Homo sapiens: one gene and its partner. The protein of the gene in region 2 interacts with the protein of the main gene of each other region in a biochemical or structural test. Each region holds a gene or a part of one and is shown on either strand. Other genes may lie near its edges. The genes, in order: NOD2 and MAP3K7.

Region 1 (3,822 bases), on a different chromosome or scaffold from region 2:
GTCTGGTGTCCCTGCAGCCGAGCTTGTCAACCTCCTCTAGAGAGAAAGTGTTCCCTCGGAGCCTAAAGCAGATCAAGTGAACAGAGGTTTGAGTGAGGACAAAATTAGAGCAGGGCTTTCAAACAAAAGCCTCCACTTTTTAAACCCATGCCTGGGATGGGCTGACTCTCTGGCCCAGCTGCAGTGTTTCTTGCAGGGAAGTCAGGGCTGTTTTTACCCTTGGCCAACCAGGGCAGCTCAGGAAGCATTCTGAACAAGGCTCCATGACTCTGCAGAGAGAGTCCACAACACTGCACCCAGCCAGCCACAGACTCCCCAAGGCCAGTGATTCTTTTTAAGGCAATAAGAGAATCTGTCAAGAATGCAATGAGCAAACCCTGGTGCCCTCCCAAGTTCCATCAACAGGCAGCAAATAACATCAGACCCCTTAAAATATCAACCTCATGTTGGCTGGTGCCCAGGACCCAGAATGTGATGTTTCTTAGGACTGTGCAATGGTTTCAAAAACAAAGAAACAGAAAACCTACACTTTGCCCAGAACCTGATGACGTCATAGGCCACAGAGCTATCACAATCATACAGAAGGAAAAATCTCTCCATCACAGCATAGATTTTTGAAGTCACTTTTAAATTTTTTATTTTTTTAAGAGATGGGATCTAATTCTGTCGCCTGTGCAGTGATGCAATCATGGCCCACTGCAGCCTTGAACTCCTGGGTTCAAGGGATCCTTCCATCCCAGCCTCCCAAGTGGCTAGGAACTACACCGCACCCAGCTGAATTTTTTATTTTTTGAGAGACAAGGTCTGGTGTTGAACCTCTGGCCTAAAGTGATCCTCCTGCCTCAGCCTCCCAAAGTGCTAGGATTACAGGTGTGAGCTGCCACGCCCAGCAAAGCTTTTGTTTTTAACTTCATCATTTGATATCTGCATTCGCTGCAGCCTTGATGTGCTTTTTGAGAGAAGACAAGGCCTGCATATTTAAAGCAAGGGTCACAGGCTTATGGGAATGAGTTGCCAAAGGGTCCTGGTCTAAGACAATAGGCTTGGTGGATCTGCAGTCAGCCAGAGTGGGTTTGCCCATCTGAGAAGACTCAGCCCTTCTTGTACTCTGGTTAACTACTGGAATCATGAATGGGCATCCAGAGTTCCCAGCTCTTTTGAGAAAACCCTGAGATATAGATTTTCTATAGGAAATTTCCTGGCTTTTAAATATTAGTCTCTAGCCCAGTGCCTGGAACATATATAGTAGCATTCACTTACAGCACATTAGGCCAGGGAAAGCCTTTACTTATTGTCTGAGAAATAGATCCCTGGAAACAAGAAGGACAAATCTTTGAAGCTGTGGCTCAGCAGAGAGAAAGTCTACAACACTGGACCCAGCTGCCCAGACTCCCAAGGCTAGTCATTCTTTTTAAGGCAATGAAAGAATCTGTCAAGAATGCAATTCTTGCTTTTTTCAATACATGAAAGTCTATGGCTTTAATTATAGAGAATTGGAAACACTGTGCAACCTGCTCCTAACCTGTGTAATCTCCATTCAGAACCGCAGAAGGTCTGATCCAATATCCTTGACCTGTGAAGGCAGATGCAATTTCTAGGAGGGCGGGAGCTGACTTTTCTTTTCATTCTTCAACCACATCCCCATTCCTACACTATCTCATAGAGCAGAGAAGTTGCTGAATAAATAGTCAAGGTTTAAAAATGAAATCATTGCTCCCTACTTAAAGAGGTAAAGACTTCTTTCTTAGACAGAGAATCAGATCCTTCACATGCAGAATCATTCTCACTGAATGTCAGAATCAGAAGGGATCCTCAAAATTCTGCCATTCCTCTCTCCCGTCACCCCATTTTACAGATAGAAAAACTGAGGTTCGGAGAGCTAAAACAGGCCTGCCCAGGGGCCTTACCAGACTTCCAGGATGGTGTCATTCCTTTCAAGGGCCTGCAGGAGGGCTTCTGCCCCTAGGTAGGTGATGCAGTTATTGGACAACCTGGAAAAGAAGATACAATGGTGAGCTTCAAGGATTCTTGGTTTTCCTCTTGAAACTGTCCAGTTAAAGAGACTGCAGGAGTTAGCCAGTCTACTGAAGCCCACCTGTCCCTTAGACACATCCTGCTCATGTCTGAGATTCCCAATGAGCTCATCAACAAAGGCTCAGTACCATCAGTGAAATGTAACCGTCTCTCTTCCATTCACTAGATGAGTTTATCAAATTAAGTAGCCACTCCCTTAGGATAGTGGTTAAGTACCTGCATTTTAGTGCTAGACATCCTGGGTTTAAATCCCACCTACACCACTTCTTTTTTGATCTCGAGCAAATTAGTCCCAATCTCCTCATTGGTAAAATGGGCCTAAAAGAGTACCCGTGCCATCGAGCATAAGAATCTAAATTGTGATGGGTGTAAGCAGGCTCCTATTCACATCCACCATCCATCTCCTTGTGGCATGGGTCCTGGGCCATTAAGTCAGCCACCAGTCCCCCATTACCTCCCCACACTCTGCTTGCTGGGAAGACCCACCACTCTCTGCATGCCTAAAACACTTGCACAGTACTTGATATGGTTTGGCTGTGTCCCCACCCAAATCTCTTGAATTCCCACGTGTTGTGGGAGCGACCCAGTGGAAGGTAATTGAATCCCATCCTGTTCTCATTACAGTAAATAAGTTTCATGATATCTGATGGTTTTAAAAAGGGGAGTTTCCCTGAACAAGCCCTCTTCTCCTGTCTGCTGCCATGTGAGATGTGCCTTTCACCTTCAGCCATGATTGTGAGACCTCCCCAGCCACGTGGAACTGTAAGTTCAATAAAACTCTTTCTTTCATAAAGTGCCCAGTCTTGGGTATATCTTTATCATCAGCATGAAAACGGACTAATACAGTACTTAATTGATAGAAAATAACCAATGAGCAGTAATATTTCTATTTTCAGGGGGGTCTTTGAGGGCACAGAGACAGAGATTAGAGAACATATGAGGTAGCTGACAACAGGGAGGGGAGACAGGATAGGGCCAGGGACAGCAACAGAGGAGTCATGTGTTTCCCAGGTTGCTCTTTTGGTTACAGCTTTGCCTTCCAATAATGTCCACTCCAGGTCCTCCCCCTTTCCCACAATTTCAGGAATGTCTTACAAGTTGACCCTAAGGCAATGCCAATTGTAATTGCCAGTATTTATTGAACTTCTATTAGATTGGTGCAAAAGTAATTGCAGTTTTTGCATTGTTGAAATTTGCCATTTGATATTGGAATACATTCTTAAATAAATGTGGTTATGCTATACATCATTTTAATGCACAATTCTCACTTTATGATTTTTTGCTAATGACTTAATACTTTCTGTTTATTTTATATTTATTTTAGACTATGAAAATGATGTTAGACAAAAAGCAAATTCAAGCAATTTTCTTATTTGAATTCAAAATGGGTTGTAAAGCAGCGGAGACAACTCACAACATCAGCAATGCATTTGGCCCAGGAACTGCTAACTAACGTATAGTGCAGTGGTGGTTCAAGAAGTTTTGCGAAGGAGATAAGAGCCTTGAAGATGAGGAGTGTACTGGCAGGCCATCAGAAGCTGACAATGACCAATTGAGAGCAATCATCAAAGCTGATTTTCTTACAACTACTTGAGAACTCAACATCGACCATTCCATGGTCATTCAGCATTTGAAGCAAATTGGAAAGGTGAAAAACCTCGATAAGTGTGTGCCTCATGAGCTGAGTGAAAACCAAGAAAATCGTCATTTTGAAGTGTCATCTTCTCTTATTCTACACAACAACAGCGAACCATTTCTTGATCTGATTGTGACGTGCGATGAAAAGTG
Region 2 (3,822 bases):
CCTGGTCAATGCTGAACAGTCTCCACAATGATACTAATGGTAGTAATATTAAAGGCAGTATAGGAAACTGGTAAAAACAGCTAAGATTACTCAGATGATGGTACTGTTTGATAAATCTATGAATGACCTAAATAATTAGGCAGACATTTGTTTTTAGACTTGTGGAATAATGTAAAAAATGGCCATTAGTCACATGATTATAAACAAGGCATAGAAATGAAATAACTAAGAGTGGCGCTAAAATTAAGAAGGTAAGTAATTTTCCTTCATGAAAAGCTATTTTCCCAAGCAAATGTAAAGTAACTTTACTAATGAAGAGGATGCATTCTAACATCATATGTGGTTAAAAACAACATTACCAGAACTATAAAAGAAACAGGACAGATGCAAGGACATTGAGTCCATAAGTCAATATGACTTAAGATATGAGCATTCAAGTCAGAAGCATCTGGATTTGAATCCCAGCTCTACCACTTACTAATCTTGTGACCTTAAGCAAGTTATTTAACCTCTCTAGGCCTCAGTTTCCTAATCTGTAAAATGAGGCAACAGTACTCACCTTCTAAGGGTGGGTGAGAATATAAACAGGAAAAATATGTGAAGCATTATTATTCTTTGCTTCTTCTCCTTGATGAGGCCCTTGCTTCTTCAGGAGAAAAGGGCTATAACTCTCCAGTTATATTAACCATGTCAGAGATTTTATGTATGTATTTTTTTATTTTTTCCATGATCCAGCCTGATGCTTCTCCCTAAGAGAGAGCCAACTGTCTAGGTTGCGTACTGATGGCCTTTCCCTAATCAGCGGAGCCAGTGAACATCCTCAGCCGCATGTGTAGACCAGGACTACTCTCAATCCTGCTCTGCTGGACTCTGGGGCAGGGACAGGGCAGAGTCTGATAATAGCAAAGCAGTCTCTTAACAAAGAATTGTACATTTTAATGTTAGAGATAAATGATATTCTTTAGGGAAGGGGACAGGAGTAGTCTTCCAAGTAGAAAACACAAAAAGTACTTTTAAGAAAAATTTCTTTTTACGAACCATTATGAACAGCCCACATGATTCGGAAAGCTGGGCCACCAATCTCATCAAAGGGTTTCCGACGCGTTATCACTTCCCAAAGAATAATACCCCAGCTGAAGACGTCACATTTTTCACTGTAATTACTACCTAGAAAAAAAAAAGGTAGTATATAACCTAAAGACTATTTTTCCACATGACTTACAGAAACAATGGCTTAAATTTTGAGAATGGGTATCAGGGATAAAAATGAGGCTGTCACATGTAGAACTAAGAAACTACTCTTTCTGAAGTACTTTGTCTTTTCAACAAGTACATTTTTAAATGAATTAAGTATCAACAATACACTAAAAAACTACTTCAGAAACTCAGTTATTTTCTATCTTTTTTCATCAAGAGGCAGTTTTTTCATCAAGAGGCACAGGACTTGACTTTTATGTATTTAGACTGATACTTTCTCTGGGGCAGAGTATGAAACATCTGTACATTCCTTTATGTTGTTTATTATTATTTTATTCTGAGACAGGATCTCACACTCTCATCCAGGCTGGAGCTCAGTGTAGCCTCAAACTCTTGGGCTCAAGTGATCCTCCTGAGTAGCTGGGGCTACAGGCATGCGCTGGCACAACTGGTTAATTTTTTAAATTTTTTGTAGAGATGGGGTCTTGCCATGTTGCCCAGGCTGGTCTCAAACTCCTGGGCTCAACTGATCCTCCTGCTCTGGCCTCCCGAGGCGCTGGGATCACAGGCATGAGCCATTGTGCCTGGCCTCCTTTCTGTTACATTTTAATCTTAAATTTTCTTCCCACTCTGACAGACAGCACTACTCTGCTATCAAAGCAGAAGAACTTTCTAATTTAGTGTTACAGTTTTTTCCTCAATATATGGTGAAGGGAAATTCTTAATTTATAAACTTAAACATTACGTTGTAAGTAACGAAAATTATGGATAACCTGAGTTACACAGCAAAATTTACAAACTAAGTAGGTGGTTGAATCAGCCAGCACAATAAGCACCCGTCATAATCTCCCAAAAACAAACAAACACTCAACTCACTGTAAGAATGAACAATTATTATAGCTATAGCTTTACATGCTAAGCAGTACACTGTAATATAGCACTACAACCATGCTACAGTCTAATTTGGGCTACAGGTTGACTGACATCTTTCAGAAATGAAGAAACTTACACAGCCTAACAGTCTGCATTTTGTTGCTCTAGACAATTAAGGGTTGTCTAGAGCAATAAAATTAATCTTTTGTATAAACAAATCTTTTTGCTCTCCACATACAGTAACATTGGGTCATTTTAACTCACATAAAGGTATATTAAATAAGTAAATAATTTTAAAACAATGTCAAATGTATACATTCTGTATATGAAACAGGAGGCATTATTTAATCTTGTGTAATATAACACCTGATTATTCATTTATTACTAAATTGAATTTTAGGGCAAAAGAGCTCCACTCAGGTGACTAGTTGCATTGCAATTTCTCTTCCTCTGGGGTGGCTAAAAACAAACAGAAAACCCTTTAAAGTCATCAAAACTGAAAGAAATAAGCTATAACCAGAGTCTGATTAACTGAATGTATCTGAATTTTATGGGCATTTACACTTCCTAACATACAAATCACATACCTTCAGTTCAACTTCTTTCATTTAAAAGATAATTTGATGTTTTTATACAGAAACCTAGCATATAATTTACAGACAACTCTTTTAAAACTTCAGTGACATATGGAGGTATAAAAGAAGGTAAACATATAAGCTTGACATTTATTTGTAATTCTTAGTATCTTATTTCTGTCCAATTACTTGCATTCTTTTTTTTTTTTGAGATGGAGTCTTGCTCTGTCACCCAGGCTGGAGTGCAGTGGCACGATCTCGGCTCACTGCATGCTCCGCCTCCCGGGTTCACACCATTCTCCTGCCTCAGCCTCCCGAGTAGCTGGGACTACGGGCGCCCGCCACCACGCCCGGCGAATTTTTTGTAGTTTTAGTAGAGATGGGGTTTCACCGTGTTATACAGGATGGTCTCGATCTCCTGACCTCATGATCCGCCCACCTCAGCCTCCCAAAGTGCTGAGATTACAGGCCTGAGCCACCGCGCCCAGCTATTTGCATTCTTTTTAAGGCATCCTCATTTAAACTTTAGGGCTCTCAATTTTTAATTGCTAGGAAACCAATACAAAAGCACAGTTAATTCTCATTATTCCTGGTATTTATGTTCTATAAAGTTTCTGAGAACACTGAATTAGTGAACACTGAATCACTGCTCCTAAGGAAAATACAGGGGTAGGTTCCTGTGTGCCTCTGGTCACCATGTTTTTGTCAACTGATCAATATATAGCCTTGTTTCATGCGTATTTCTGCTTAAAGACACCTTATTCATATATACTGTTGATTTATTACCATTGAACTCATAGTCAACATTTCTGTAACTCATGCCTGAATGAAGATAATTTAACATATGTATATTGTCTGTTAAGATACATCATAGCCTTCTTGTACTTAGGCAGTACTATGCTTGAGGGCCATTTTAAGTAGCAAAATTACCAACAAAAATCACAAAAATGAAAAAGGGCTCTGAACAGCACAAAAAAGGACACCTGCTTACAGCATGAGAGCTGAAACAAGACGGAAAAACGTTGTCTTGTTCAACCTCAGCTGGAAGCATGCGTTAGATGACTCAAAATTTGCACTGCTCAGCGCATGCACACTGTCTGCGAGTACATGAAAGCACTGTCTGCAAATAACCATGAAAGCACCATGAGTATTAATTTTGGGGTTACAAATAAATGTT

Evidence for each region.
Region 1: the proteins of MAP3K7 (region 2) and NOD2 form a complex in vitro, tested with the Homo sapiens proteins (2 studies listed by BioGRID).

Annotation. Positions count from the first base shown.
Region 1 is NC_000016.10:50,727,987-50,731,808, reverse strand, and holds part of NOD2 (nucleotide-binding oligomerization domain-containing protein 2), read right to left. Parts: exon of another isoform or gene 3,359-3,822; intron 2,797-3,358; exon of another isoform or gene 2,659-2,796; intron 1,992-2,658; coding exon 1,908-1,991; exon of another isoform or gene 1,856-1,907; intron 63-1,855; coding exon 1-62. UniProt on the Homo sapiens protein: Pattern recognition receptor (PRR) that detects bacterial peptidoglycan fragments and other danger signals and plays an important role in gastrointestinal immunity.
Region 2 is NC_000006.12:90,552,420-90,556,241, forward strand, and holds part of MAP3K7 (mitogen-activated protein kinase kinase kinase 7), read right to left. Parts: intron 1,168-3,822; coding exon 1,039-1,167; intron 1-1,038. UniProt on the Homo sapiens protein: Serine/threonine kinase which acts as an essential component of the MAP kinase signal transduction pathway. Plays an important role in the cascades of cellular responses evoked by changes in the environment.